Linked DNA regions of Homo sapiens. The protein of the gene in region 1 interacts with the protein of each later gene in a biochemical or structural test. Each region holds a gene or a part of one and is shown in the gene's direction. Other genes may lie near its edges.

Region 1 (13,250 bases):
GAGATCCTGTCCGTATTTTTATTTATTTATTTATTTGTTTATTTATTTTTGAGGCAGTTTCACTGTTCTCCAGGCTGGAGTGCAATGGTGCTATCTCGGCTCACTGCAACCTCCCCCTCCTGAGTTCAAGCGATTATCCTGCCTCAGCCTCCGGAGTAGCTGGGATTACAGGCGCACGCCACCACACTCGGCTAATTTTGTATTTTTAGTAGAGACGGGGTTACATCTTGTTGGTCAGGCTGCTCTCAAACTCCTGACCTCAGGTGATCTGCCCGCCTCGGCCTCCCAAAGTGTTGGGATTACAGGCGTGAGCCACTACACCTAGCCTATATTATTTTAAAATAAAAATTTTAAAAATGAAGTTGGCTGGATAGAGTGGCTCACGCCTGTAATCCCAGCACAGCACTTTGAAAGGCCAAGGCGGGCGGATCAGTTGAGGTCAGGAGTTTGAGACCAGCCTGCCCAACATGGCAAAACCCTTGTCTACTAAAAATACAAAAATTAGCTGGGCATTGTGGTAGGCGTCTGTAATCCCAGCTACTTGGGAGGCTGAGGCAGGAGAATCACTTGAACCCAGGAGGCAGAGGTTGCCATGAGCCAAGATCAAGCCATTGCACTCCAGCCTGGGTGACAAGAGCAAAACTCTGTCTCAAAAAAAAATAAAAAAAGACACATGCACACGTATGTTTATTGCGGCACTATTCACAATAGCAAAGACTTGGAACCAACCCAAATGTCCATCAATGATAGACTGGATTAAGAAAATGTGGCACATATACACCATGGAATACTATGCAGCTATAAAATAGGATGAGTTCATATCTTTTGCAGGGACACGAATGAAGCTGGAAACCATCATTCTCAGCAAACTATCACAAGGACAGAAAACCAAACACCGCATGTTCTCATTCATAGGTGGGAACTGAACAATGAGAACACTTGGACACATGGCAGGGAACAACACACACCCACACCGGGGTCTGTTGTGGGGTAGGGGCCTGCGGGAGGGATAGCATTAGGAGAAATACCTAATGTAGATGATGAGTTAATGGGTGCAGCAAACCAACATGGCACATGTATACCTATGTAACAAACCACATTGTGCACATGTACCCTGGAACTTAAAAAAAAAAAAAAAAAAAAGGAGTCTGAAACCATGAACAATCATCGTTATTTACCAAGTTTGTTCTTGTTGAGGAAAAAAATACAAAAATTAGCCAGGTGTGGTGGCACACACCTGTAATCTCAGCTACTCTAGAGGCTGAGGCAGGAGAATTGCTTGAACTGGAAGGCAGAGTGCATTGAGCTGAGATCGCACCACTGCACTCCAGCCTGGGCGATAGAGCAAGACTGTCTGAAAAAAGAAAAGAAAAAGGTATTATTGTTATTCTGGTGTTTGGCAAAGCGTTTCTACTTAGCCTGTGTGACTTGAGATGGTGGGTCAGACACATTTGTGAAAGGCAGTTAAATATCCCCAGAAGGACTTCTTTTGTGGGGCTGGGGACTGGGTCTCGCTCTGTCACCCACACTGGAGTACAGTGGTGCTATTATAGCCCATGGCAACCTTGACCTCCCAGGCGCAAGTGATCCTCCCACCTCAGCCTCTGTAGGAGCTGGGACTATAGGCTCCTGCCACGTCACCTGGCTAATTTTTTTTTTTTTTTTTTTTTTTTTTTGAGAGGGAGTCTCACTATGTCACCCAGGCTGGAGTGCAATGGTACGGTCTAGGCTCAGTGCGACCTCCACCTCCAGGGTTCAAGCGATTCTCCTGCTTCAGCCTCCCCAGTAGCTGGGATTACAGGCGCCCGCCACCACGCCTGGCTGATTTTTGTATTTTTAGTTGAGACAGGATTTCACCATGTTGGCCAGGCTGGTCTCGAACTCCTGACCTCAGGTGATCCACCCACCTCAGCCTCCGAAAGTGCTGGGATTACAGGTGTGAGCCACCATGCCTGGCCATCTGGCTAATTTTAAAATTTTTTGTAGACACAGCGTCTTACTCTGCTGCCCAGCCTGGTCTCAAACTCCTGGGCTCAAGTGATCCTCCCACCTTAGCCTCTTGAGTAGTAGGATAACCACTCAATTTGTTTAGAGCAGTTTTAGGTTTACAGCAAAGTTGAGTGGAAAATACAGAGTTCTCCTATATCCCCTCCCTCCCATCCCCCTGCACAACCTCCCTTGCTGACCTATCCTGTACCACAGTGATACATGTGTTAGAATCTATGAACCTCGGTGACTCATGCCTGTAATTCCAGCACTTTGGGAGGTCAGGAGTTCGAGACCAGCCTGGGCAACATGGTGAAACCCCATCTCTACTAAAAATACAAAAACTAGCCAGGCATGGTGGCAGGCACCTGTACTCCCAGCTACTTAGGAGGCTGAGGCAAGAGAATTGCTTGAACCCAGGAGGTGGTGGTGGAGGTTGCAGTGAGCCAAGATCATGCCACTGCACTCCAGCCTGAGCGGCAGAGCAAGACTCTGTCTGAAAAAAAAAATCTATGAACCTCCACTGACATATCATTTTCTCCTGAGGTCTGTACTTTACATGAGGGTTCACTCTTGCTGTTGTACGTTCTGTGGGGCTGGACAAACGTATAAGGCATGAACCCACCAATATAGTATCACATGGAGTAGTTTCACTGCGCTAAACGTCATTCATGCGCTGCCTGTTCATCCCTCTCTTCTCACTAACCCCTGGCAACTGCTGATCTGTTATTTACTGTCCCCATAGTTTTGAAACAGAGTCTTGCTCTGTCATCCAGGCTGGAGTGCAGTGGCGCAATCTCTGCTCACTACAACCTCCGCCTCCCACGCTTAAGCTAATTTCTGTATTTTTTGTAGAGGCGAAGTTTCTCCATGTTACCCAGGTTGATGAAGTCCCGGGCTTAAATGATCCCTCTACCTCAGCCTCCCAAAGTGCTGGGCTTTCAGGTATGAGCCACCACACCCGCCCAATAGATCATTTATTTTTAGTTCTGAATAAAAAAATAAAAATACAAACAAGGTCCCCAATTGCGTTTGGTTGAGGCCAGTTTTCTGTAAGTCTCTTTTAGTTCTGAAAAAATAAAATAAATAAAAATACAGGGCCGGGCACAGTGACTCACGCCTGTAATCCCAGCACTTTGGGAGGCCAAGGCAGGCGGATCACCTGAGGTCAGGAGTTCAAGACCAACATGGCCAACATGGCAAAACCCCATCTCTACTAAAAATACAAAAATTAGCCGGATGCGGTGGCGTGTGCCTGTAATCCCAGCTACTCAGGAGGCTGAGGCAGGAGAATCACTTAAACCCAGGAGGCGGAGGTTGCAGTGAGCTGAGATTGTGCCATTGCACTCCAGTCTGGGCAACAAGAGTGAAACTCCATCTCAAAAAATAAAATAAAATAAAAAATAAAAATAAATAAAAATACAAACAAAGTCCCCAATTGCATTTGCTCGAGGCCAGTTTTCTTACGTCTCTTTTGGTCTGTGGGTTCCTCTTTCTGTCTTTTGCCCCCTTGCAACATATTTGTGGATGAAACTAGGTTGTTTGTCTTGTTGACTTTTTTTTTTGAGATGGAGCCTTGCTCTGTCGCCCAGGCTGGAGTGCAGTGGCACGATGTCGGCTCACTGCAACCTCTGCCTCCTGGGTCCAAGTGATTCTCCTGCCTCAGCCTCCTGAGTAGCTGGGATTACAGGCGTGGGGCCAGTACGCCTGGCTAATTTTTGTATTTTTAGTAGAGATGGGGTTTCGCCATGTTGGCCAGGCTGGTCTCGAACTCCTAACCTCAGGTGATCTGCTCGCCTCAGCCTCCCAAAGTGCTGGAATTACAGTCATGAGCCACTGCGCCTGTCATGTTTTCTTCTTTTTCTGCATTGCTATTAAAAATTTTGGCTGGGGCCGGGCGCAGTAGCTCATGCCTGTAATCCCAACTCTTTGGGAGGCCAAGGTGGGTGAATCACCTGAGGTCAGGAGTTAAAGACCAGCCTGGCCAACATGGTGAAACCCCTGTCTCTACTAAAAATACAAAAATTAGCTGGGTGTGGTGGCGGGCGCCTGTTATCTCAGCTACTTGGGTGGCTGAGGCAGGAGAATCACTTGAACCTGGGAGGTGGAGGTTGTAGTGAGCCGAGATCGTGCCACCGCACTCCAGCCTGGGCGACAGAGCAAGACTTAATCTCAAAAAAAAAAAAAGAAAAGAAAAAATTGTTTCCTCATAATCGTAAAGCTGTTATACTCACTGCAGGCACAGCTAGTACATTTTGCTCAACCCCACAGGCTCCGTTCCCTTTACGAGGTATTTATTTATTTATTTATTTTTATTTTTGCGACGGAGTCTCTCTCCTCTGTCATCCTGGCTGGAGTGCAGTGGCATGATCTCGGCTCACTGCAACCTCGGCCTCCAGGGCTCAGTCGGTTCTTGGGCCTCAGTCTTCCAAGTAGCTGTAAGTACAGGCATGCGCCACCACGTCCGGTGAATTTTTTGTATTTTTAGTTGCCATGTTGGCCAGGCTTTTACTAGCTATTTATAATATGCTTGAGTCACTCACAGGAATGAAATACTGTCAGCATCAATAGTTAGCAGCTCTTTCAAAATACATTTTATTGCCTCTATAAGAAACCTTAACTATTCTATTAGTCCAGTAATTCCAAATGGTCTTATTATTTCTTGGGTTTTGTTTGTTTGTTTGTTTGTTTTTGAGACGTTGTTTCTCTCTTGTTGCCCAAGCTGGAGTGCAATGGTGTGACCTCGGCTCACTGCAAACTCCTCCAAGGTTCAAGTGATTCTCCGGCCTCAGCCTCCTGAGTAGCTGGGATTACAGGCACGAGCCACCATGTCTGGCTAATTTTTTGTATTTTTAGTAGAGACTGGGTTTCCTCATGTTAGTCAGGCTGGTCTCGAACTCCTGACCTCAGGTGATCCATCCGCTTCAGCCTCCCAAAGTCCTGGGATTATAGGCATGAGCCACCGCACCTGGCTCGTCTTATTATTTCTATACATAATATATGCTCTTTTGGCTGGGCGTGGTAGCTCAAGCCTGGTGGCAGACGCCTGTAATCCCAGCTACTTGGGAGGCTGAGGCAGGAGAATCGCTTGGACCTGGAAGGCAGAGGTTGCAGTGAGCCAAGACTGAACCACCTCACTCCAGCCTGGGCAACAGAGTGAGAACCCATCTCAAAAAATACTGATAATAATAAGATCATCTTCAGAACTCAGTTCCTGGTGCATGAAGAGATTCAATACAGCCCCCTCACTCTCAGTTCTTAGAAAGAAGAATATGCCAGCCTGACCAACATGGTGAAACCCCCGTCTCTAATAAAAATACAAAAATTAGCTGGGTGTGGTGGCGCACGCCTGTGATCCCAGCTACTCAGGAGGCTGAGGCAGGAGAATCGCTTGAACCTGGGAGGTGGAGATTGCAGTGAGCCCAGCCTGGGAGACAGAGCAAGACTCATTCTCAAAAAAAAAAAAAGAAGAAGAATATGAAAGAGATAGGATCAATAACTACCTTCATTGTTTAATAGCCTAAGAGTGAAAGCCCAGCACAGTGGCTCACCCCTGTAATAATCCCAGCACTTTGGGAGGTTGAGTTGGGAGGATCACTTGAGCCCAGGGGTTCGAGAACAGCCTGGGCAATATGTCAAAAGCTCCTCTGTAGAAAAAATACAAAAATTAGCCGAGTGTAGTGGCACACACCTATAGTCCCAGCTACTAGGGAGGCTGAGGTGGGAGGATCACCTGAGCCTGGGAGGTCAAGGTTGCAGTGAGCCATGATTATGTCACTGCATTCCAGCCTGGGAGACAGAGCCAGACCCTGTCTCAGGAAGAAGAAGAAAAAAAAAAAAGCCAAATCTTTTTATCCCAGGATGTCTGAAAAGGACAGAGTCTATGGAGCATGGATGCAGAAAAGTAGTTATTCCTACCAGAAAAAAAAAAAATGAAATGTGGACACAGCCACTCAAGATCAGAGACTCAACCAGTGAAAGCAATTAGCTTCAATTTCATTGTCACCAGGAGGGCGCACACCAGAGAACCTGGGAGAAAGCCTGGGCTAGAGCCCTTAGCATTCTCAGTGTTACTGGTGCTGTGGTTCAACAACCTTTGTGGGAATGAGGAGAACCAGAGACCATCACCATCACACGTAAAAAGGATCCTATAGCAACAATGTGGCTGTCAAAAATCAGCTGGAGGCCAGGCGCGGTGGCTCACGCCTGTAATCCTAGCACTTTGGGAGGCCGAGGCGGGCGGATCACCTGAGGTCAGGAGTTTGAGACTAGCCTGGTCAACATGGTGAAACCCCGTCTCTACTAAAAATGCAAAAAATTAGCTGGGTGTGGTGGTGCATGCCTGTAATCCCAGCTACTTGGGAAGTTGAGGCGGGAGAATCACTTGAACCTGGGAGGCAGAGGTTGCAGTGAGCCCAGACTATGCCACTGCACTCCAGCCTGGGTGACAGACTGAGACCCTGTCTCAAAAAAAAAAAAAAAATCAGCTGGAGCTTAAATTATACATTGTTTGCAATCCAGACTGTACTTGCTTTCTTGTCAATGGCTTGAGATATGTGCAGAGGCCCCTTAAACATGTGTAGGTGACCTTTCTCTGTCGCCCAGGCTGGAGTGCAGGGGCACAATCTCAGCTAACTGCAACCTCCACTTCCCGGGCTCAAGCAATCCTCCCGCTGCAGCCTCCTGAGTAGCTGGGACTACAGGTGTGTGCCATCAAGCTTGGCTGATTTTTTTGTACTTTTTTTTTTTTTTTCGAGATGGAGTCTCGCTCTGTCGCCCAGGCTGGAGTGCAGTGGCGCAATCTCAGCTCACTGCAAGCTCTGCCTCCCGGGTTCACACTATTCTCCTGCCTCAGCCTCCCAAGTAGCTGGTACTACAGGCGCCCGCCACCATGCCCAGCTAATTTTTGTATTTTTTTTAGTAGAGACGGGGTTTCACCGTGTTAGCCAGGATGGTCTCGATCTCCTGACCTCGTGATCCGCCCGCCTCGGCCTCCCAAAGTGCTGGGATTACAGGCGTGAGCCACTGCACCTGGCCGATTTTTTGTATTTTTAGTAGAGACAGGGTTTTGGCATGCTGCCCAGGCTGGTCTGGAACTCCCGACCTCAAGGGATCCGCCTGTCTAGGCCTCCCAAAGTGTTAAGATTACAGGTGTGAGCCACCACGCCTGGCCCAGAAATACTCTTTTTTTTTTTTTTTGAGATGGAGTCTCACTCTGTTGCCCAGCCTGGATGGAGTGCAGTGGCGCGATCTCGGCTCACTGCAAGCTCCGCCTTCTGGGTTCACGCCATTCTCCTGCCTCAGCCTCCCGAGTAGCTGGGACTACAGGCACCTGCCACCATTTTTTTTTGTATTTTTAGTAGAGACGGGGCTAATTTTTTTTTGTATTTTTAGTAGAGATGGGGTTTCACCGTGTTAACCAGGATGGTCTCGATCTCCTTACCTCGTGATCTGCCCGCCTCAGCCTCCCAAAGTGCTAGGATTACAGGCGTGAGCTACCACACCTGGCCCAGAAATACTTCTTTATCAGAAATATTACTGGCGGGTGTAGCAGGGCACGCCTATAATCCCAGCACTTTGGGAGGTCGAGGCAGGCAGATCCCTTAAGCTTAGGAGTTCAAGACCAACCTGGGCAATATGGTGAAAGCCGTCTCTACAGAAAATTAGCCAGGCACAGTGGTGTGTACCTGTGGTCTCAGCTCCTAGGGAGGCTGAGGTGGGAGGATCACTTGAACCCAGGAGGCTGAGATTGCAGTTAGCTGAGATTGTGCCCCTGCACTCCAGCCTAGGCGACACGGTGAGACTCTGTTTCAAAAAACAAAAAAGAAATATGACTTATTTACAAATATTTCTTTCTTTTTTATTTTTAGAGACAGGGTCTCACTATTACGTAAGTATTATAAATTATATATATATGTTTGTTTGTTTGTTTGTTTTTCTGAGACAGAGTCTTGCTCTGTCACCCAGGCTGGAGTGCAGCGGCACAATCTCCACTCACTGCAACCTCCGCCTCTTGGGTTCAAGTGATTCTCCTGCCTCAGCCTCCTGAGTAACTGGGACTACAGGTGCCCGCCACAATGCCCAGCTAATTTTTTATATTTTTGGTGGAGATGGGGTTTCACTGTGTTAGCCAGGATGGTCTCGATTTCCTGACCTCGTCATCCACCTACCTCAGCCTCCCAAAGTGCTGCTAGGATTACAGACGTGAGCCAGTAAGTCCGACATCTTTTTTTTTTTTTTTTTTTTTTGTGGAAACAGGGTCTCACTGTGTCTCCCAGGCTGGAGTGCAGGGGCACAATCTCGACTCACTGCAGCTTTGACCTCCCAGGCTCAAGCGATCCTCTCACCTCAGCCTTCCAAGGAGCTGGGACTACAGGCACCAGGCCCATGCTACTGGTCCCTGCTGTTTACAAATACACTAGACTTGGGTTTTAGCTGCTCTCTCAACACCAGGTGGGAAATGGATTGTTCGGAAGGTAGAGGAATAGAGGAGGGACCTGCTTAGGAAGGTGGGGGTGCTCTAGATGAGAGAGGAGGTGCTGTGACCTCAAGGTCTGGGGAAAGTGGGTGAGTGCAGGGCCCCATCAAGGCTCTCAACAAGGCCTCTCTCTCTGGAGCTCAGATGTGAAGCCCAGAAGGCAGGTCAGAGGCCTGAGGTCAGAGGCAGGTCAAAGGTGGGGGTCCCACCTGGTCCCCTTGGCGCCTTCCCTTGGAATGCAGTGACCAGCTGCCTGGAAGGGTGGGCAAGGGGACAACAGGATGGGGTAAAGGCCAGTTACAAGTAGAATCCTGGAAGGCCGGGCGCAGTGGCTCACGCCTGTAATCCCAACACTTTGGGAGGCCAAGGCGGGCAGCTCACTTGAGGTCAGAAGTTTGAGACCAGCTTGGCCAACATGGTGAAACCCCGTCTCTACCAAAAAGTACAAAAATTAGCCGGGCGTGGTGGCACATGCCTGTAATCCCAGCTACTCGGGAGGCTGAGGCAGGAAAATCGTTTGAACCCGGGAGGCAGAGGCTGCAGTGAGCCGAGATCCCGCCACTGCACTCCAACCTGGGTGACAGAGTGAGACTCTGTCTCAAAACAAACAAACAAAAACCAAGTAGAATCCTGGATAGACAGTGGCTCAGGGACTCAGCTGTCCCCAAATCACCTACCTTAGCTCTTTGTGCAGGGGATGGGGGATCCCCAAGATCTTCAAAGATAGGGAGGTATCCTCAAGATCTTCAAAGGTGGCCAGGCGTGGTGGCTCACGCCTGTAATCGCAACACTTTGGGAGGTCAAGATGAGAGGAGGCCATCTTAAGGCCAGGAGTTCAAGACCAGTCGGGGCAACATAGCAAGACTCTGCTTCTGTTTCTGTTTTTGTTTTTGTTTTTTAATGTTTCCTCGAAATCCCACCTTAACATCTACACAATGGTGCCTACAGTTTTCCCCATTAACTTCCTCTCTGGGGACAGAATATTCCCCTACCCACCTAAGTTCAGCCAGAAGGAGATGCCTCATCCCCCCCACCCAGGCTTCCCAGTGCTGAGAACAAAAGAAACCAGTTTAGTTAGCATTTCCTGTGAATTCAAATGGGGGCCAGCAGTGCAACTGGGACCAGCCCATTCCCTGGGGGAGACTCAGCAGTGCTGGCCACTTTGCAGAGCCCCGTCTGGGTCCCCCACCCTGGCCCCCAAGGGCCACAGCATCCCCTTCCACCCACAGGCCTGGGCAAGGTGCAGTCCCCAGACTTCTGCAATCTTAACCGCTGTGCTTCCGTCGCAGTGGGAGGCCCCGCCTTTTCCCCTGCCTGCCCTTCGGGCACCTCAGGAAGGCACCTTCCTCTGTCAGAATGGCCACCATGGTACCATCCGTGTTGTGGCCCAGGGCCTGCTGGACTCTGCTGGTCTGCTGTCTGCTGACCCCAGGTGAGACCAGTCAAGCCGGGGAGGGCTGGAGAGGGCTGCGTTTTGGGGATCAGTAGAGGGTAGAGGAATAGAACGCAACGCTGTTCACATCCTGCCACACTGCGACCTGGCCGCTGACTCTGTATCCTCGGGAGAAAGTTCTGGTTCCTTAGTTCAGCCTTCAGGTGGTCAGGCCCCAGCATAGGCTTGTACGCCATCCCTCTCCCCTAACACACACACACACACCCCTCATGCTTCCTGCTCCATCTGAACTCCTGAAATTTGCCCTTTGCGTATGTGCTTCCCTCTGCCAGGATCACCTGTCCCTTTCACTTGCTAACTCCTACTTAGCCTTCAGTTTCGGGCTGCAATGGTCCCCGCTTCCAGGAAGCCTTCCCTGACTCACCTCCTCCTATGCTGGATCAGAGCCTCTTCTGGCCTCCTTCTGAGTTCTCCCCGGTCTCTGATGGATTCTACCTTTCCCACTGGACCATGAAGGCAGGAACCCTTCTGTCTCGGCACAAGGAGAGAGGTGTTAAATGGTGGGGCCTGTTGATGCGTGGGTTGGGGGACAAGGAAACAAACACCAGGACTTCTTCATGTTCCTGAAGGTGTCCAGGGGCAGGAGTTCCTTTTGCGGGTGGAGCCCCAGAACCCTGTGCTCTCTGCTGGAGGGTCCCTGTTTGTGAACTGCAGTACTGATTGTCCCAGCTCTGAGAAAATCGCCTTGGAGACGTCCCTATCAAAGGAGCTGGTGGCCAGTGGCATGGGCTGGGCAGCCTTCAATCTCAGCAACGTGACTGGCAACAGTCGGATCCTCTGCTCAGTGTACTGCAATGGCTCTCAGATAACAGGCTCCTCTAACATCACCGTGTACAGTGAGTCGACGTGTCCGGAGGTGGGACTGGTCTTGGGTAGTGGTGTGGGCAAGTGGCCAATGGCTCAGGAGAGTGGGGACCCTCAGTTTGCAAAGAATGGACCACAGTTCTGACCCAGAGCTCAGACCTGGACATTTGTGTGTGAGATACAAAGATAGACAGAGACAGAGACACAGAGACAGAGACAGAGATATAGAGACGCATCTCAATCTCATGCCAAGGCAGCAGTTGTGAAATCAATTAACTTGGGCCCCAACAAGCATTTTTTTTTTTTTTTTGAGACAGAGTTTCGCTCTTTTTGCCTAGGCTGGAGTGCAGTGGCACGATGTCGGCTCACTGCAACCTTCGCCTCCTGGGTTCAAGTGATTCTCCTGCCTCAGCCTCCCGAGTGGCTGAGATTACACATGCACGCCACCACACCCAGCAAATTTTGTATTTTTAGTTGAGATGGCATTTCACCATGTTGGCCAGTCTGGTCTTGAACTCCTGACCTCAGGCGATCCGCCCACCTCAGCCTCCCAAAGTGCTGGGATTACAGGCATGGGCCACTGCGCCCGGCCCCAACAAGCTTTTTTTTTTTTTTGAGATGGCGTCTCTTACTCTGTAGCCCAGGCTGGAGTGCAGTGGTGCAATCTCGGCTCACTGCGACCTCTGCCTCCCAGGTCCAGCTAATGCCCAGCTAAGTTTTGTATTTTTAGTAGAGACGGGGTGTTCCGCCCACATCAGCCTCTCAAAGTGCTGGGATTACAAGTGTGAGCCACTGCGCCTGGCCCCAACAATAATCCCAACACTTTGGGAGGCCAAGGCAGGAGGATTGCTTGAGTCCGGAAATTTAAGACCAGGCAGAGCAATATAGGGACACCCCGTCTCTACAAAAATAAATAAAAAATATTAGCTGGGCATGGTGGCACATGCCTGAAGTCCCAGCTACTTGGGGGACCAAGGTGGGAGAATCGCTTGAGCCCAGGAGTTCAAGGCTGTAGTGAGCTATAATTGCACCACTGCACTCCAGCCTGTGCAAAAAAGCAAGACCCTTGTCTCTTAAGCAAAAAAGGGGGTACCCCTTTCAGTCAGCAGTAGGCAAATGGAGGTTTTACATTTACACTTTTTTATACCTTTATTTTAGAGACAGGATCTCCCTATGTTGCCTAGGTTGGTCTCAAACTCCTGGGCTCAGGCAATCCTCCCACTTCAGTCTCTCCAGTAGCTGGGATTGCAGGCCTGGCTACTTTTTTTTTTCTTTTCTTTTCTTTTTTTTTTTTTTTGAGACAGAGTCTCACTCTGTCCCCCAGGCTAGAGTGCAGTGGCGCAATCTTGGCTCACTGCAACCTCTGCCTTCCGGGTTCAAGCGATTCTCCTGCCTCAGCCTCCTGAGTAGCTGGGATTACAGGCGCATGCCAACACGCCCAGCTAATTTTTGTATTTTTAGTAGGGACAGGATTTCACCATGTTGCCCAGGCTGGTCTCAAACTCCTGGCCTCAAATGATCTGCCCGCCTTGGCCTCCCAAAGTGCTGGGATTATAAGCGTGAGCCACCATGCCTGGCCTACTTTTTGACTTTTCTTTTCTTTGAGACGCAGTCTTGCTATTGTCCCCCATGCTGGAGTACAATGGCGCGATGTCAGCTCATTGCAACCTCCGCCTCCTGGGTTCAAGTGATTCTCCTGTCTTAGCCTCCTTAGTAGCTGGGATTACAGGCGTGTGACACCATGCCCGGCTAATTTTTGTATTTTTAGTAGAGACAGGGTTTTGCCATATGGGCCAGGTTGGTCTCAAACTCCTGACCTCAAGTGATCCGCCTCCCTCGGCCTCCCAAAGTGGTGGGATTACAGGCATGAGTCACCTTGCCCAGCCTTTTTTTTTTTTTTTTTTTTTTTGACATAGAGTCTCTCTCTGTCGCCAGGCTGGAGTGCAGTGGCACTATCTCAGCTCACTGCAAATTTTGCCTCCTGGGTTCAAGCGATTCTTGTGCCTCAGCCTCCTGAGTAGCTGGGATTACAGGCACGTGCTACCATGCCTGGCTAATTTTTGTATTTTTAGTAGAGATGGGGTTTCACCATGTTGGCAAGGCTGGTCTTGAACTCCTGGTCTCAGGTGATCCGTCCACCTTGGCCTCCCAAAGTGCTGGGATTACAGGCATGAGCCACAGTGCCCGGCCTGAGGCCCAGCGTTTTGTAGGTGTACTGGGGAGGGCACCCAGCCTGGGAGTGTCAAGTCTCCTGTGACTGTGCCGGAGTATCTTGAGAGGCTGCCACAGGGCTGGTGAACCAGGAAAGCCCTGAGTGTCTGAACCTGATTGGAGAGAACTGAATAATCCTGACCTTTTGATCCACCCACCCCGGCCTCCCAAAGCTCTGGGATTACAGGCGTGAGCCACCACGTCTGGCCATAAACAGGAATTTTTAATATTCATATCATAGTCATAAACGTTCATCCCTTCCATCCTCATTTTTTTTTATTGTGCCATCTTTGAGAACAGAAAGTTTTGTTTAGCGCC
Region 2 (16,270 bases), on another chromosome or scaffold:
CTCACCCTGTTTGCTTTTTTTTTTTCTTTTTTTTTTGAGACAGAGTCTCACTCTGTCGCCCAGGCTGGAGTGCAGTGGCGTAATCTTGGCTCACTGCAACCTCCCGAGTAGCCTCCCGAGTAGCTGAGATTATAGGCTTCTGCCACCATACCCGGCTAATTTTTGTATTTTTAGTAGAGATGGGGTTTCACCATGTTGGCCAGGCTGGTCTCGAACTCCTGACCTCAGGTGATCTGCTTGTCTCAGCCTCCCAAAGTGCTCGGATTACAAGCGTGAGCCACTCCGCCTGGCTGTATTTGCTTTCAATTTCTATCTCCACATCTCTCCTTTCCAATTTCTGTCTTCTGATCCTCTTTCACCACAATCTGTTTTCCAAATCTCTCCTCTCAAACCTTTCCCATCACCTCCCTTTGACTTCCGCCACTCCCATCTCTCTGGCCAGCGGGTTGCTGGAAAGATGAGCAAACGGAGGGACAGACAGATTGAGTCCTTGCCCACGGCCTCGTGGCTCATACGTGGAGGAGTCAGAATTGGAACTAGAGATTGATTGAATGAATGACACTCGGGTCACCAGGACACCCTTCCAATCTCCACTCCTACATCTATTTCTTAGCAATCATCTCCCGACTCCTACCTCCTCTTTTCAGGCTCTTGTTGGTGACATCTGTTCACAGCTCACCCCTTCTCTCCCTTTGCCACCATCCTACCTCCATATTCCCCTTGTTACTTATTTCCAACTTCTTCCCCCATCTTCCAGCCTGATTCACCCTTTTCTCTTCTGGCCAGCGGATTGCCAGCTCCCAGCTCTCCCCCAGGCTGCAGTATTTTGGGCAGGCGCTGAGTGGGGGTCAGGACCTCACCCAGGATGGACTGATGGACCTGGCCGTGGGGGCCCGGGGCCAGGTGCTCCTGCTCAGGTAGCGACTCCCCAACATCCTGCCCTCCCGCGCTGTGTCTGATTCACCGGTGCTGCCTCCCCAGCCACGTTATCCTCCCAGAAGCCAGTGTTCTGTCCTCCCCACTACTCTGCCCCTCAGGAGTCTGCCGGTGCTGAAAGTGGGGGTGGCCATGAGATTCAGCCCTGTGGAGGTGGCCAAGGCTGTGTACCGGTGCTGGGAAGAGAAGCCCAGTGCCCTGGAAGCTGGGGACGCCACCGTCTGTCTCACCATCCAGAAAAGCTCACTGGACCAGCTAGGTGTGTTTCCCCCATAAAGGGGGCCCAGGCCCCTCATTCCATTAGGGGCCCCAATGCCATCCTGAGGATGGGATGGGCCTAGGAATCCAATCTTACCTCCACATTCACTCACCACCTGTGCCAGAAACCTGGCTCATTCTCTCCCCTCTTCCTCACACCTGGGCCTGTGGATTCTGTCTCCAGGGCTGACCTGAAGTCCACCCAGTTCTCTCCTGGGCCCCAGCCACTGCCTTCCCCCAGCCCCTGATTCCCTTCCACCTACACCAAAGTCATGACATGAAGCAGTTCCCACATCTCTTCTTGCACCCTCCCACCCATTTTCCACAGAGGAACTAGAGTCGACTGGTCCTAAAATGCAAATCTGGGCTCCTCACTCCCCTGCGTAACCCGCCTTGCATTTACAAAGACTCCAGTCCTTCCCTCCAGTGCCCTCTCTGACTTGGCCTCCTGGCCTCTCTGACCTCATAGCATCCCACTCCTCCTTACTAGGCACGCTTTTCGTAAATGCACCAGCTTTGCTCTCCCTTCTGGTCTTAGGCCCTGTTCCCATGGTCCCGGATGTTCTCCCCACTCCTCACCTGGCTCCTGCTCATTCTCCAGGTGGCTGCTTAGCCATGGTCCATCCGGGATGGCAGCCTGGCCAGGTCCAGCAAGCATGCTCTCCTTAGAACCACAGGAGAGCCTCCCCTCGCACTGATCACGCTGCAACATCACGTCCCATGTGCTTGGCTTCTTTCTTAGATTGTGAGGTTCATGAGAGTGGGGGCCATATCTATCTAGCTAGCTAATCTATCATCTATCTGCCAAATCTGTCATCTATCTATTATCTATTAATCTAATCACCTATCTAATCTATCATCTATCTACCAATCTATCACCTATTATCTATCATCTATCACCTATCTAATCTATCCTCTACCAAATCTATCATCTATTATCTATCATCTGTCTATCTAATCTGTCACCTATTTAATCTATCATCTATTTATCTATTATCTAGCCATCCATCCATCCATCCATCCATCCATCCATCCATCCATCATCTATCCGTCCATCTATCTTCTTCACATGTATCCCCAGCACGTGGTACAGTTCATGGCCCATAGCAGTGTCCAGCAAACATGTATTGCATGAACAAATAATGAAAACAGAGCATTCTAGGTTATTTCTGCCTTTTCATTTTGCACTCTCCCCTGCACTTCAGGTGACATCCAAAGCTCTGTCAGGTTTGATCTGGCACTGGACCCAGGTCGTCTGACTTCTCGTGCCATTTTCAATGAAACCAAGAACCCCACTTTGACTCGAAGAAAAACCCTGGGACTGGGGATTCACTGTGAAACCCTGAAGCTGCTTTTGCCAGTGAGGACTTTGGGTTCTGGGAAGGGGGAGAGAGGAGGAGCCCAAGGCTGGCCTGGAGCACCCCCGTTCTCTGCTGAGCGAGGTGGGAAGGGTTAGGATGTTGGGGCTGGAGAGAGGGACATTAGGGCAGGAGAACCTGGCTCCACGGCTTGGAGGGAGCACTGTCAGGGCAGTGGGGAGTGGATGCAGTGGAGGAGGACTTGTGGTGGAGCGTAGAGAGGACAGCAGGTTCTTGAAAGCCTGTTCTCTCTCAGGATTGTGTGGAGGATGTGGTGAGCCCCATCATTCTGCACCTCAACTTCTCACTGGTGAGAGAGCCCATCCCCTCCCCCCAGAACCTGCGTCCTGTGCTGGCCGTGGGCTCACAAGACCTCTTCACTGCTTCTGTGAGTCTTCTGATGAAGTCCCAGGGATGTGCTGACTTCATTTTGTCTCCATGAGCTTAAGAATCCACTGTAGCTCCCCAACACCCAACCACATCCAGTCCAGAAACCTGACTCCAGTCTCTCCCTTCCTCCTCACACCCAGGCCTGTGGGTTCTGTCTCCAGGACTGACATGAAGTCCACCCATTTCTCCTCCTGGTCCCAGCTGCTGCCTTCCCCCAGCCCCTCGATTCTCTCCCACCTACACCAGAGTTGACACGAAATGGTTCCCATATCTATTGTTGTATCCTCCCACCCATTTTCCATAGAGGAGCTAGAGTCGACTGGTCCTAAAATGCAAATCTAGGCTCTTCACTCCCCTGCGTAATCCCCCTTGCATTTACAAAGATCCCAGTCCTTCCCTCTGATGTCCTCTCTGACTTGGCCTCCTGGCCTCTCTGGCTTCACGGCATCCCACTCGCCCTTACTAGGCACGCTTTTCATAAATGCGCCAGCCTCGCTCTCCCTTCTGGTCTTAGGCCCTTCTCCCACCTCCATCCACACACCCAGGAACTGTACACATCCTAGGCAGTTCCCACTTTTCCCTAGCACAGACTCTCTTGTTCATTCCCAGATCCCTCCCAAGTTTCCTCATTCCTACCTCTGTGCCTTTGTCCCTGTTTCGCCCCTCACTTGGAAAACAGTGCCTTCTGCCTTCTCTCCCCGTTTTCCCCCGAAGCTCCAGCCTTACCTCCCTCTCTTCTGAAGGCCACACTCAGCATCTGCCGCTCCTTCTCTGGTCCCTGTTACACCAAGGTGGTGCCACAGCAGATATCACATGGCTGTTATAACCATCTGCATCTACATTTGAGGCTGTCTTGGGACTGTAGTTTCTTTGAGCATAGGAACCATGTCGAATTTGCCTGTCATTTCCACCTTCCCCCAGCCCTCGCCCAACCCAGAACCTGCACAATTATTGGCACTTAATAATGTTTGTGGAATAATTGTTCCAGGATAAGCTGGATGTAACTCAACTGAACTTTATGTCCCTTGAAGCCAAGGATCTTGTCTTATCTTTCTTTTATATGCCAACCTCCAAACCGCACCTGCGCCCCTTGTTGGTGTCCAGCAAAGTGCTGGGGGCAGTGGCTTAGTAATGCTCAATGTTGGAGAGTGCTTCTAAGGAGGGGCTTGGAGAAAGACTAAGATGTCAGATGGGAACAGAATATACTATTTTGCTGCAGCTCCCCTTCGAGAAGAACTGTGGGCAAGATGGCCTCTGTGAAGGGGACCTGGGTGTCACCCTCAGCTTCTCAGGGTGAGCTGTAACTCCCTTCATATCCAGACACTCAGGCTTCTGAGTCCCCCATCCTCCTGGGATGCTTGTGCTGCTCTCTGGCTCTTTCTAACAAAAGTGATGTTCACTGGATTGTTATTGGCCCAGAGCTCCAGAGTTCCTGGGATTCTGCCCTGCCCTTCCCAGTTCCCACCTATTTCCAGTGGAGCGCCACTCCCAGCCTCGTCCTTCCCCTTCAGCCTGCAGACCCTGACCGTGGGGAGCTCCCTGGAGCTCAACGTGATTGTGACTGTGTGGAACGCAGGTGAGGATTCCTACGGAACCGTGGTCAGCCTCTACTATCCAGCAGGGCTGTCGCACCGACGGGTGTCAGGAGCCCAGGTAACAACTGCTGTAGGCTCTAGTGGGAGGGGGCCTCTCCCCTGCCCTGTAGCCCCGGGAGTTACACAGTGTTCTTCAAAATTGTTCTGTGATGATATGTGCTCTCTCTCTCTCTCTCACACACACACACATACACACAGAGAAAGTGCATAAAGCATACATACGGTTTAATGAATAATATTAAACAAACCATAGAGTTAACATCCAGATCAAGAAATAAATCACTGCTAGCATCCCCAGAACCCCCTCCCTGTTTACCTTTCCCCATCACAGCTCCATCCTGTCCCCAAAGGTCATCACTATTCTGACTTTGTGGTCATTTCCTTGTATCTCTCTCTCTCTCTCCTTCCCCCCTCCCTCCCCCCTCCCTCCCTCCCTTACTTCCTCCCTCCCTCCCTCCCTCCCTCTTTTTTTTGAGACTGAGTCTTACTCTGTCACCCAGGCTGGAGTGCAGTGGCACAATCACCACTCACTGCAGCCTAGACCTCTTGGGCTCAAGCAATCCTCCCACGTCAGCCTCCCAAGTAGCTGGGACTACAGGTGCATGCCACTACGCCCAGCTAATATTTATTTATTTATTTATTTATTTATTTATTTATTTATTTATTTTTTAGAGACAGGGTCTCACCATGCTGCCCAGGCTGGTCTCAAACTCCTGGGCTCAAGTAATCCTCCCACCTCAGCCCTTAAAGTGCTGAGATTACAGGTGTGAACCACCACACCTGACCATATTGTTTCTGTGTGTGGGTCTTATTTAAGAAACACTTCCAGGTTATGAAAATAGCCCCCTATATTATATTCCAAAAGCTTCATGGTTTTGCTTTTTCACATTTAAGTATTTAATCCAGTTGGAATTTATTTTAATTTATGGAGTGAGGTAGGGATCCAATTTCTTTTTCTTCTTTCTCCTCCTCTTCCTCTTGTACTTTCTTTACTTTTCTTCTGCTTTTTAAAAAATTTTTTGTATGGGTCAATTTTCCTGGCATTGATGGAAATTGATTGAAAAGTCTGTCCTTGGCCGGGTGCAGTGGCTCACACCTGTAATCCCAGCACTTTGGGAGGCCAAGGCGGGTGGATCACCTGAGGTCAGGAGTTTGAGACTGGCCTGGCCAACATGGTGAAACCCCATTTCTACTGAAAATACAAAAATATTAGCCAGGCATGGTGGCAGGCACCTGTAATCCCAGCTACTCAAGAGCCTGTGGCAGGGGAATTGCTTGAACCCAGGAGGTGGAGGTTGCAGTGAACCACGATCATGCCATTGCACTCCAGCCTGGGTGACAAGAGTGAAATCCGTCTCAAAAAAAAACAACAACAAAAAAAGAAAAGTCTGTCATTTTCCCTAGTGCTCTGCAGTGCCACCACTGCTGTGTATCAAGCCCACACATGCATGCGGGTAACTTCTTAAAATTCATTCTCCTCCCCTAGAAGCAGCCCCATCAGAGTGCCCTGCGCCTGGCATGTGAGACAGTGCCCACTGAGGATGAGGGCCTAAGAAGCAGCCGCTGCAGTGTCAACCACCCCATCTTCCATGAGGGCTCTAACGTCAGTGCTTCTCCCTAAATCCCCATCACTGTCCTCCCTTGTCCCAATCTGTCCCTCACTCTGCCATGCCCTTCCTTTTATCCCCATTCTTTCCTTCTTCTTCCCTCAGGGCACCTTCATAGTCACATTCGATGTCTCCTACAAGGCCACCCTGGGAGACAGGATGCTTATGAGGGCCAGTGCAAGCAGGTGGGTCCAGGCCAGGGTATCCCCCACCCTCCATCGCATGCCCCGGCTAGAGACCCCTCTCCTGGATTCCTTCCCATTGGTCCCTCCTTTCTGTCTCCAGTGAGAACAATAAGGCTTCAAGCAGCAAGGCCACCTTCCAGCTGGAGCTCCCGGTGAAGTATGCAGTCTACACCATGATCAGCAGGTGCCCAGTCCCTGGCCTTCCCCTTGGACCTCTGGCCTTCCTCTATGCCTGGTACTCCTTCTGAGTCCCAGCCTGCTCTTCCAATGATGCACATCTAAGCTCTCCTGTTTTGGGATGCCTTTGTGGGTGAATGGCCATATATAATGACATTTATGCTGCATAAAGATGTTTCTGGGCTGGGCGCGGTACCTCGCGCCTGTAACCCCAGCACTTTGGGAGGCTGAGGCAGGTGGTTCACCTGAGGTCAGGAGTTCGAGACCAGCTTGGCCAACATGGTGAAACCCCATCTCTACTAAAAATACAAAATAAATTAGCTGGGCGTGGTCATGCGTGCCTGTAATCCCAGCTACTTGGGAGGCTGACGCAGGAGAATCACTTGAATCCGGGAGGCGGAGGTTGCAGTGAGCCGAGATCATGCCACTGCACTCCAGCCTGGGTGACAGAGGGAGACTCTGTCTCAAAAAAAAAAAAAAAAAAAATTAGCTGGGCCTGGTGGCGCATGCCTGTAATCCCAGCTACTCAGGAGGCTAAGGCAGGAGAATCTCTTGAACCTGGGAGGCGGAGGTTGCAGTGAGCTGAGATTGTGCCACTGCACTCCAGCCTGGGCAATAGAGCAAGATTCTGTCTCAAACAAAAAAAAAAAAAAAAGGTGTTTTTGTCAACAGTGGACCCACATTTACTACGGGTGGTCTCCTAAAATTATAACGGAGTTGAAAAATCTCCTAATGATGTCATAGCAGTTGTAACATTGTAGTGCAACTCATTGCCTTTTTTATGTCTAGATACACAAATACTTTCCATTGTGTTACAATTGCCTACAATATCCAGTACAGTAACACGCTGCATGGGTTTGTAGCCCAGGAGCAATAGGCTATACCATATCACCTAGCTGTGCAGTAGGCTCTACCATCTAGGTTTGCATAAGTGCAACCTATGATGTTTGCACAATGATGAAATTGCCTAAGGCCGGGCGCAGTGGCTCACACCTGTAATCCCAGCACTTTGGGAGGCTGAGGCAGGCGGATCACCTGAGGTCAGGAGTTCAAGACCAGCCTGGCCAACATGGCGAAACCTTGTCTTTACTAAAAACGCAAACATTAGCCAGGCGCAGTGGCACACGCCTGTAATCCCAGCTACTGGGGAGGTTAAGGCAAGAGAATCGCTTGAACTTGGGAGGCGGAGATTGCGGTGAGCTGAGATCGCGCTGCTGCATGCCAGCTCAGGGGTGACAGATTAAGGCTCTGTCTCAAAAAAAAAAAAAAAAAAAGAAAAAAAAAGAAAAGAAAAAGAAATTGCCTAACGATTAATTTCTTGGAATGTATCCTTGGTGTATTTGTACCCTAATAATATATACCATAGCTCTTGCTGCTTCTCTCAAATCGACTTGCTGGTGGGACACACACACATTGCCACCACTGTGCCTTTCCCCCTCTCCCTCTAAAAGGAAGGCTTCCTTTTTTAACATGAAACAAATTCTGTCCTTTGTATTAAATGTGAATGTGCTGAAGCAAAGCTGCTACATGGAGATCAAGGCTTTTCTGAGCACCCTGAATTGGGGAGCTTGTGCCCAACAGGATATGGTCTGTCACCACACAGAGGAAAGGAAAGGTCAGGTTTCTATAAAACTCAGAGTGGGGCAGAGGTGTGAGAAACTGTTGGGAAGGTCTCTTAAGAGCCTGGCCAAGGCAGCGCAGGAAAGGCAAGTGTAGGGCTGAAGGCAAGAGGGTTCTGCAGGTGGTGGAGGCACAGGGGCAGGCGAGGCTGGATGCAGAGCAAGGCATCCCATACACTGGGCTGAAAGACTGTAACACTGCTGTGGGACAAAGTTTGCTGCTATTGCTTTTTTTTTTTTAGACGGAATCTCACTCTTTCACCCAGGCTGGAGTTCAGTGGTGCAATCTGGGCTCACTGCAACCTCCACCTCCCAGGTTCAAGTGATTCTCCTGCCTCAGCCTCCCGAGTAGTTGGATTACAGGCATGCACAACCACATCTAGCTAATTTTTTGTTTGTTTGTTTGTTTGTTTTTGAGATGGAGTTTCACTCTTGTTGCCCAGGCTGGAGTGCAATGTTGCGATCTCAGCTCACTGAAATCTCCGCCTCCCAGGTTCAAGTGATTCTCCTGCCTCAGCCTCTCGAGTAGCTGGGACTACAGGCATGTGCCACCATGCCTGGCTAGTTTTGTATTTTTAGTAGAGACAGGGTTTCACCATGTTGGTTAGGCTGGTCTTGAACTCGTGACCTCAGGTGATCCACCCCCACCCGAGGGCCTCCCAAAGTGCTGGGATTACAGGCATGAGCCACCACACCTGTCCACTGTTGCTTCTGATGTATTAAGTTGTTAGGGGAAGGAGCGAGGGAGATCAAGCAGTGTCATTGTCCTTTCAAGCCACATGTAGGTTTCCCTTTCTATCCACAGGAAAATACTTACAATAAGAGCTTACAGTTATATATACCCATGTCAGGCACGTTTTATGTTGCTGTTGTTTTATGGTGGTTTTCTTACACCATCTTAAGTACTTTATATGTATTTACATTTATTTAATCCTACCAATAATTATATTGTTATCCCTATTTTCACCAACAAAGACATCAAGAAGTGAAATACTTTGTTCCTGTCAATCTCCAAGTGGGCAGCAGAACCAGGAATCAGACCCAGACGGTTTGGCTGCAGAGCCCATGCCCATGGCCATACATGGCATGCCTCTCCAAGGACTGGGGAAAGCTGGGTGGTTTACTTAGATCTGAAAACAGGCTTAGGCTGCGCACGGTGGCTCGTGCCTGTAATCCCAGCACTTTGGGAGGCCAAGTGCTGGGATTACAGGCATGAGTGGGAGGATGGCTTGAGCCCAGGAGTTTAAGACCAGCCTGGGCAACATAGTGAGAACCCATCTCTACCAAAAAAAAAAAATTAAAAATGAAAATAAAATAAAACTTTAAAAATGAAAAGAGGTTTAGAACTAGATTTTAAGATGAGAAAACAGAAGCATAGAGAGAAGGGTTTGGGGTGGGGGGCACAGAGGAAAACCGGCATACTTAGGGAAAAATAAACCTTAAGATTTATGGAGGAGTCCCTGTGTGCTGGGCACTACCAAGCCCTGGTCACAACTCTACTACAGGGAGGTTGCTACGGTTTGCATCCCCATTTTAAAGAGTGAAAAGCTACAGTTTCCAGAGACGTGAAGTGGCTTGCCTCAGTGACTCAGGTAGGAAGTGGTCGACCTGAGATGTGAACCTAGGCGGTTTGACACTGGAGCCCATGTTTTTAGTCATCAGGCTGATGGGGGGTGGACTGCTGGGGCTGTTTCTGTGTGGCTGGTCTGGCTGCTGCATGCGAGGTGCAGGCCCCTCTGCTGGTCTGCTTACTTTTGCTTTTTGTTTGTTTTGAGACAGGGTCTCACTCTGTCACCCAGGCTGGAGGGGAGTGGTGTGAACATAGCTTACTGCAGCCTCGACCTCCCAGGCTCAAGCAATCCTCCTGCCTCAGCCTCCTGAGTAGCTGGGACCACAGGCGTGTGCCACCACTTGCAGCTAATGTTTGTATTTTTTTTTTTTTTTGCAGAGACGAGGTCTCTCTGTGTTGCCCAGGCCAGTCTTGAACTCCTGGGCTCAAGCGATTCTTCTGCCTTAGTCTCTCTAAGTGTTGGGATTACAGGCGTGAGCCACCTCGCCTGGCCAGCTTGCTCATTTTTACTAAAACTTTAGATGTTAAGTGGTGAGAGGGCAGGGAGTTATGGCTTAACTTGAATCCCCAGTGCCAACCACACAGCCTGTGTTTGCTGAAGGAAGTTTGGGTGGAAAGACCCCACCTGCTGCCTGGAACACTGATGTCCCTTCCACAGGCTTGTGCACAGGCACTATCTTCCTTCACATTTACTCACCTGCCCCAGGACAGCCGAATCTATTTTCTTCATTCCCACCATGAAGGGGCCCTCACTCCATGTCTTCCTGAGTGATCCAGCTCTCATTCCTAGAGTCCCCTTAGGCTAACTTGTTCTGCTACAATCTCTGTAAGCATTACCAGAGGCCAAACACTACCTATTAGAGAAAGCAATGCAAACGCCTTTGCCCCATGTAGGAGACATGAGGTTTAAGTTGGGTCTTTAAGTGTAAATTTCCAAAACTGGAGACAGTAAGAACGTTCCAAGGAGAAGAGCTTGAGCAAAGTCATGAGGCTATGAAAGAGCCAGCGGTGTGCATGGCAGAGCTAGTGGATCTGGGTGATGGGGGCAAGGGACATCGGAGGGAGGGGAGCTGAAGCCGAGGCAGCAAAGGTTATGTGGGACCATCTTTTACTTATTTACTTTGAATAGGGACAGGGTCTCACGATGTTGCCCCAGCTGGTCTGGAACTCCTGGGTTCAAGAAACCCTCCTGCCCCAGCCTCCCAAAGTGCTGGGATTACAGGCATGAGCCACTGTGCCCGGCCAAATAATGTCCATCGTTATTTCCCTGAGACATCTGCCCAGCCCAACAGAGCTCTCTGCAGTAGGACAGGGCACAACTGGGGACAGTTTCAGGGCTGTTTTTCACCCACAGGCTCTCTCTCCAGGCAGGAAGAATCCACCAAGTACTTCAACTTTGCAACCTCCGATGAGAAGAAAATGAAAGAGGCTGAGCATCGATACCGTGTGAGAGTCTAGGGAGTATCCATGTCTGCCTTCCACGTTGTGGATAAAGTTGGAAGTTGGTGGAGAAGATGGAGAGGAGCCTTGGGGTAGGGCCAGGAGGGAAGTAGGATTTGGAAGGCTCCAGAGACCACAATAACACTCTGCCTTGATTTCCTGCAGGTGAATAACCTCAGCCAGCGAGATCTGGCCATCAGCATTAACTTCTGGGTTCCTGTCCTGCTGAACGGGGTGGCTGTGTGGGATGTGGTCATGGAGGCCCCATCTCAGGTACCCGCCTATCTCTCCTCTTTCTTCAGACTGACATCCCACAGCACAGCACTCCCTCTTACCAGGGACATGTTGCTCATTCTGTGGCTAAGTGCTTCTTTCTCTTCCCAGAGTCTCCCCTGTGTTTCAGAGAGAAAACCTCCCCAGCATTCTGACTTCCTGACCCAGATTTCAAGAAGTCCCATGCTGGTGAGAAAGTCCCTGAACCCCCACCGCCAAGATCAGCCCCCACCGGGGATACTGGGAAATGTACTGCTAGGCCACAGAGTTCCGTGCATGTCCTGTAACTGCTCATCTGTTCCCCACCCCAAACCTGACCATATTTTTTCCTATGGCTCCCTCCTCAGGGAAGAACCCCTCAGTTTCACCCCTCTTCTGCCCCCAGGACTGCTCCATTGCTGACTGCCTGCAGTTCCGCTGTGACGTCCCCTCCTTCAGCGTCCAGGAGGAGCTGGATTTCACCCTGAAGGGCAATCTCAGTTTCGGCTGGGTCCGCGAGGTGTGTGGGGGCAGCGGCAGAGCCCCTGCCCCAGACTCAGGCAGGACCTGGCATGTCTGTGCCCATCTGCAAGCCAGGGCACCCCCGAAGCTCTGAGCCTCCCCCAGAGCCAGTTCCACAGGTTTCCCCCAACCCCTTTGCAGACATTGCAGAAGAAGGTGTTGGTCGTGAGTGTGGCTGAAATTACGTTCGACACATCCGTGTACTCCCAGCTTCCAGGACAGGAGGCATTTATGAGAGCTCAGGTAGAGACCATGTGGAGGGCAGCGACCAGCTGGAAAGAGGACCCCTAGGGCTACATCTGTGGTGCTGGGTGGGGGGTTTGCAAGCCTTGCGGGAGGAGGGTGAAAGTCTCTGGGCAGGACAGCTGTCCCTAAGGGCACGGGTGCTACTGTGTCTCACTCCTTGGAGCAGAGCCTCAGAAAGGAGGGGAGAGAGTTAAAGGTTGCGGAACCTGGGAGGCATCTGGGATGGCATGAGGCCGGATGCTCTCTGATCTCTAAATCAGATGGAGATGGTGCTAGAAGAAGACGAGGTCTACAATGCCATTCCCATCATCATGGGCAGCTCTGTGGGGGCTCTGCTACTGCTGGCGCTCATCACAGCCACACTGTACAAGGCAAGTGTTTTATCCAACTCTTTTTTTTTTTTTTTTGAGATGGAGTTTCCACTCTTACTGCCCAGGCTGGAGTGCAATGGCATGATCTTGGCTCACTGCAACCTCCACCTCCCGGGTTCAAGTGATTCTCCTGTCTCAGCCTCCCGAGTAGCTGGGATTACAGGTGGACTGCACCATGCCCGGCTAGTTTTTTGTATTTTTAGTAGAGATGGAGTTTCATCATGTTGGCCAGGCTGGTCTCGAACTCCTGACTTCAGGTGATCCGCCCACCTTGGCCTCCCAAAGTTCTGGGATTACAGGTGTGAGCCACCTCATCCGGCCTTATCCCATTCTTGACACCACCAGCATCCAACCCAAGCCCTCCTACAGACTGGCTGATATAGTGAGAACTCAGACTGTGGAGGCAGACAGGCCTGGACACACATTTTGGCTCTATCATGTACTCACTGTTTAATGTTAGGCAAGTTGCTCCACCTCTCTAAGCCTGTTTCTCTCTTTCTTTTTTTTCTTTTGAGATGGAGTCTCACTCAGTTGCCTAGGCTGGGGTGCAGTGGCACAATCTCAGCTCACTGCAACCTCCACCTCCTAGGTTCAAAAGATTCTCATGCCTCAGCTTCCCAAGTAGCTAGGACTACAGGCACACACCACCACACCTGGCTATTTTTTGTATTTTTAGTAGAGAGAGGTTTCACCATGTTGGTCAGATTGGTCTCAAACTCCTGACCTCATGTGATCCGCCCACCTCGGCCTCCCAAACTGCTGGGTTTACAGGCATGAGCCACTGTGCCCGGCCGTTTCTCATTTTTGAAATGATAATAATGCTTATATCACAGAGTGGCTGAAGTGAGAGAGAAATGAGGCCAGGGCATGTGCACAGATCTGCCTGGATCTATGCTGTCCTGCCACGGGTCGTGTGTGTACCTACTGTGCTCGGGGCCAGCAGATGCTCGATATATGATAGCTGTTCACATAAATGTTCTCGCACACAAACGTAAGTTAGCTTAGTTGTTGCCTCCTCTTCTCTCTCAGCTTCCTCTTATTCCCAATTTTCTTCCCTGCCCTCTTACCCAGCTTTTCTTTCTTTTCTTTCTCTTTTCTTTTTCTTCTTCTTCTTTTTTTTTTTTACATGGAGTCTTGCTGTCTTGCCCAGGCTGGAGTGCAGTGGCATGATCTTGGCTCACGGCAACCTCTGCCTCCCGGGTTCAAGCGATTCTCTTGCCTCAGCCTCCTGAGTAGCTGGGATTACAGGCGCACCACCACACCCAGCTAATTTTTGTATTTTTAGTAGAGACGGGGTTTCACCATGTTGGCCAGGCTGGTCTCCAGCTCCTGACCTCAGGTGATCCACCCTCCTCAGCTTCCCACAGTGCTGAGATTACAGGTGTGAGCCACCGGGCCCGGACTTACCCAGCTTTTCTAATTTATTTCCCCTGATAGCTTGGCTTCTTCAAACGCCACTACAAGGAAATGCTGGAGGACAAGCCTGAAGACACTGCCACATTCAGTGGGGACGATTTCAGCTGTGTGGCCCCAAATGTGCCTTTGTCCTAATAATCCACTTTCCTGTTTATCTCTACCACTGTGGGCTGGACTTGCTTGCAACCATAAATCAACTTACATGGAAACAACTTCTGCATAGATCTGCACTGGCCTAAGCAACCTACCAGGTGCTAAGCACCTTCTCGGAGAGATAGAGATTGTAATGTTTTTACATATCTGTCCATCTTTTTCAGCAATGACCCACTTTTTACAGAAGCAGGCATGGTGCCAGCATAAATTTTCATATGCTTAAGAATTGTCACATGAAATGAGGATGTTTATAGCACACTTTCCTTGCGTGGAAGAGCTATAACCCAGGGACCTGAGTGCCTCTCTGGGAATAGTCGGGGGAACCTATTTGTGGGCATTGAAAAAGTTTTTTCACTTTCTATGGTGATGGGAGCCTGAGGTCATCTTTTCTTGATGGGGCTGAGAGGTGTGTATCAGGGGAGAGGGTCAAAGAGTGTGTGTGTGTGTGTGTGTGTGTGTGTGTGTGCATGTGCATGCACGTGCACGCAGGCATGCATTGGTCATGGGTTTCTTCACACACTTCAGGTTCCTCTGTAATGGTAAGTGGGCAGGCTGTCCTAGGAGGTGAAGAAATGTCCAGAGCTCATTTGAACTCCTGTCCCCCTTGAATGAGGTACTCAGAAGCCAGGAGAGCCAGGCTAGGAGCATGTGATTTCCCATATAGAAGACTCATTAAGAAAGATTATAGGCCGGGCGCGGTGGCTCACGCCTGTAATCCCAGCACTTTGGGAGGCCGAGGCGGGTGGATCATGAGGTCAGGAGATCGAGACCATCCTGGCTAACAAGGTGAAACCCCGTCTCTACTAAAAATACAAAAAATTAGCCGGGCGCGGTGGCGGGCGCCTGTAGTCCCAGCTACTCAGGAGGCTGAGGCAGGAGAATGGCGTGAACCCGGGAAGCGGAGCTTGCAGTGAGCCGAGATTGCACCACTGCAGTCCGCAGTCCGGCCTGGGCGACAGAGCGAGACTCCGTCTCAAAAAAAAAAAAAAAAAAAGAAAGAAAGATTATAGAGAATTATCAAAAGATTCCAAATCCAGCATTAGGTCCCAAGGCCTCACACACAGGACTGTGGAGCCTCCGTCTGAAATCCAGAGAGCTGGGATTCACAGACACCAGCAGCTCAGGTGTCAGGCAAGAAGTGGGACTTCAGGATCTGCAGCCCTGGGCTCCCATGGGGGCTCTGCCGAGCTGCCGGAACTTGGACAAGTCATTTAATTCCCAAGAATCTCAGGTCTTCCTCGGGAGAAGGTGAACTAAATTTATACCCTGCTCCCAGCGTTACTGTGAGGATTCGGTGTACGCGGAAGCCCATTACAGCCTAGAGCCCTAATTATTAATAGGTGTGTGTGAGAGGGAGGCCTCATTATTACCAGGTGAGAGACAGGGAGCTGGGATCGCCTACCTGTGAGTGGAGGAGGCTCCCTCGAGCACCTCCGTATCAGCGGCGTGGGAAAAGCACGTGGAGCGCCCACCGCGCTAGGCGCATGCGCGGAGCAGGAGCGCTTACCAAGCTGGGCGCATGCGCGGAGCGGGCGCCTCTGGGCGCGCTCCCCGTGGCCCCGCCCTCCCCACAGAGCCGCAGACTCGAAGCTTCACACCTTTATTGTGTCCGGGGGCGTCCGGGGCCTCAGGGGTGTTCGTAGCCCGTGGGCAGAGGGTTCACGTGGCTATTGTGGAACAGAGTGTGGTTGCCGTCCCCCCAGGGGTAGGGCTGTGGAGAGAGCGGGGGAGGGAGCGCGCGTGAGCGCCGTGAGTCCGGAGTCCGCGCCCCGCGCGACCCCCCCCCCGCAGCACCCCCCCCCGCCCCCGCAGCACCCCCCCCCGCCCCCGCAGCACCCCCGTGCCGCCCGCGCGCCCGTCCCGCGTACCTTGGTGCGGATGCGGAGGTGTTGGTAGGGACGGAACTCGGGGCGCGGGCGGTGGCCCGAGTGGAGATAGGAGTTGAAGGTGCAGAGGGCCACGCTGGGCAGCGCCAGCACGAAGGTCAGCAGACGCCAGGTACGAGCTGCGGACGGAGCGGGGTGAGCGCGGCGGTCCTGGGGCGGCGGGCCTGTGAACAGGTGGGCAGGGTAGGGGAGCCCCCGGATCCGCCCGTTCCCCACTCACCTCCTGCTCCTCCGTGGCCTCCTTTGGCAGCGCTGGCCAAGCCCCGGGTCAGGGGCCTCAGAGGCAAAG

Evidence for each region.
Region 2: the proteins of ICAM3 (region 1) and ITGAD form a complex in vitro, tested with the Homo sapiens proteins (one study listed by BioGRID).

The regions. Positions count from the first base shown.
Region 1 is NC_000019.10:10,336,185-10,349,434, reverse strand, and holds the start of ICAM3 (intercellular adhesion molecule 3 isoform 1 precursor), read left to right. Parts: upstream 1-9,810; 5' UTR 9,811-9,820; coding exon 9,821-9,896; intron 9,897-10,189; exon of another isoform or gene 10,190-10,486; coding exon 10,487-10,753; intron 10,754-13,250. UniProt on the Homo sapiens protein: ICAM proteins are ligands for the leukocyte adhesion protein LFA-1 (integrin alpha-L/beta-2). ICAM3 is also a ligand for integrin alpha-D/beta-2. In association with integrin alpha-L/beta-2, contributes to apoptotic neutrophil phagocytosis by macrophages.
Region 2 is NC_000016.10:31,412,052-31,428,321, forward strand, and holds the end of ITGAD (integrin alpha-D isoform 2 precursor), read left to right. Parts: intron 1-786; coding exon 787-917; intron 918-1,037; coding exon 1,038-1,195; intron 1,196-2,399; coding exon 2,400-2,554; coding exon of another isoform or gene 2,555-2,636; intron 2,637-2,808; coding exon 2,809-2,940; intron 2,941-4,046; coding exon of another isoform or gene 4,047-4,100; exon of another isoform or gene 4,101-4,132; intron 4,133-4,161; coding exon 4,162-4,235; intron 4,236-4,453; coding exon 4,454-4,595; intron 4,596-6,023; coding exon 6,024-6,140; intron 6,141-6,249; coding exon 6,250-6,329; intron 6,330-6,429; coding exon 6,430-6,513; coding exon of another isoform or gene 6,514-6,564; intron 6,565-11,062; coding exon 11,063-11,141; intron 11,142-11,300; coding exon 11,301-11,408; intron 11,409-11,519; coding exon 11,520-11,597; intron 11,598-11,793; coding exon 11,794-11,907; intron 11,908-12,050; coding exon 12,051-12,152; intron 12,153-12,415; coding exon 12,416-12,526; intron 12,527-13,359; exon of another isoform or gene 13,360-13,517; intron 13,518-13,963; coding exon 13,964-14,077; 3' UTR 14,078-14,454; and 1 more. Other genes in the region: COX6A2 (cytochrome c oxidase subunit 6A2, mitochondrial precursor), read right to left, coding at 15,723-15,806, 15,964-16,100, 16,202-16,270.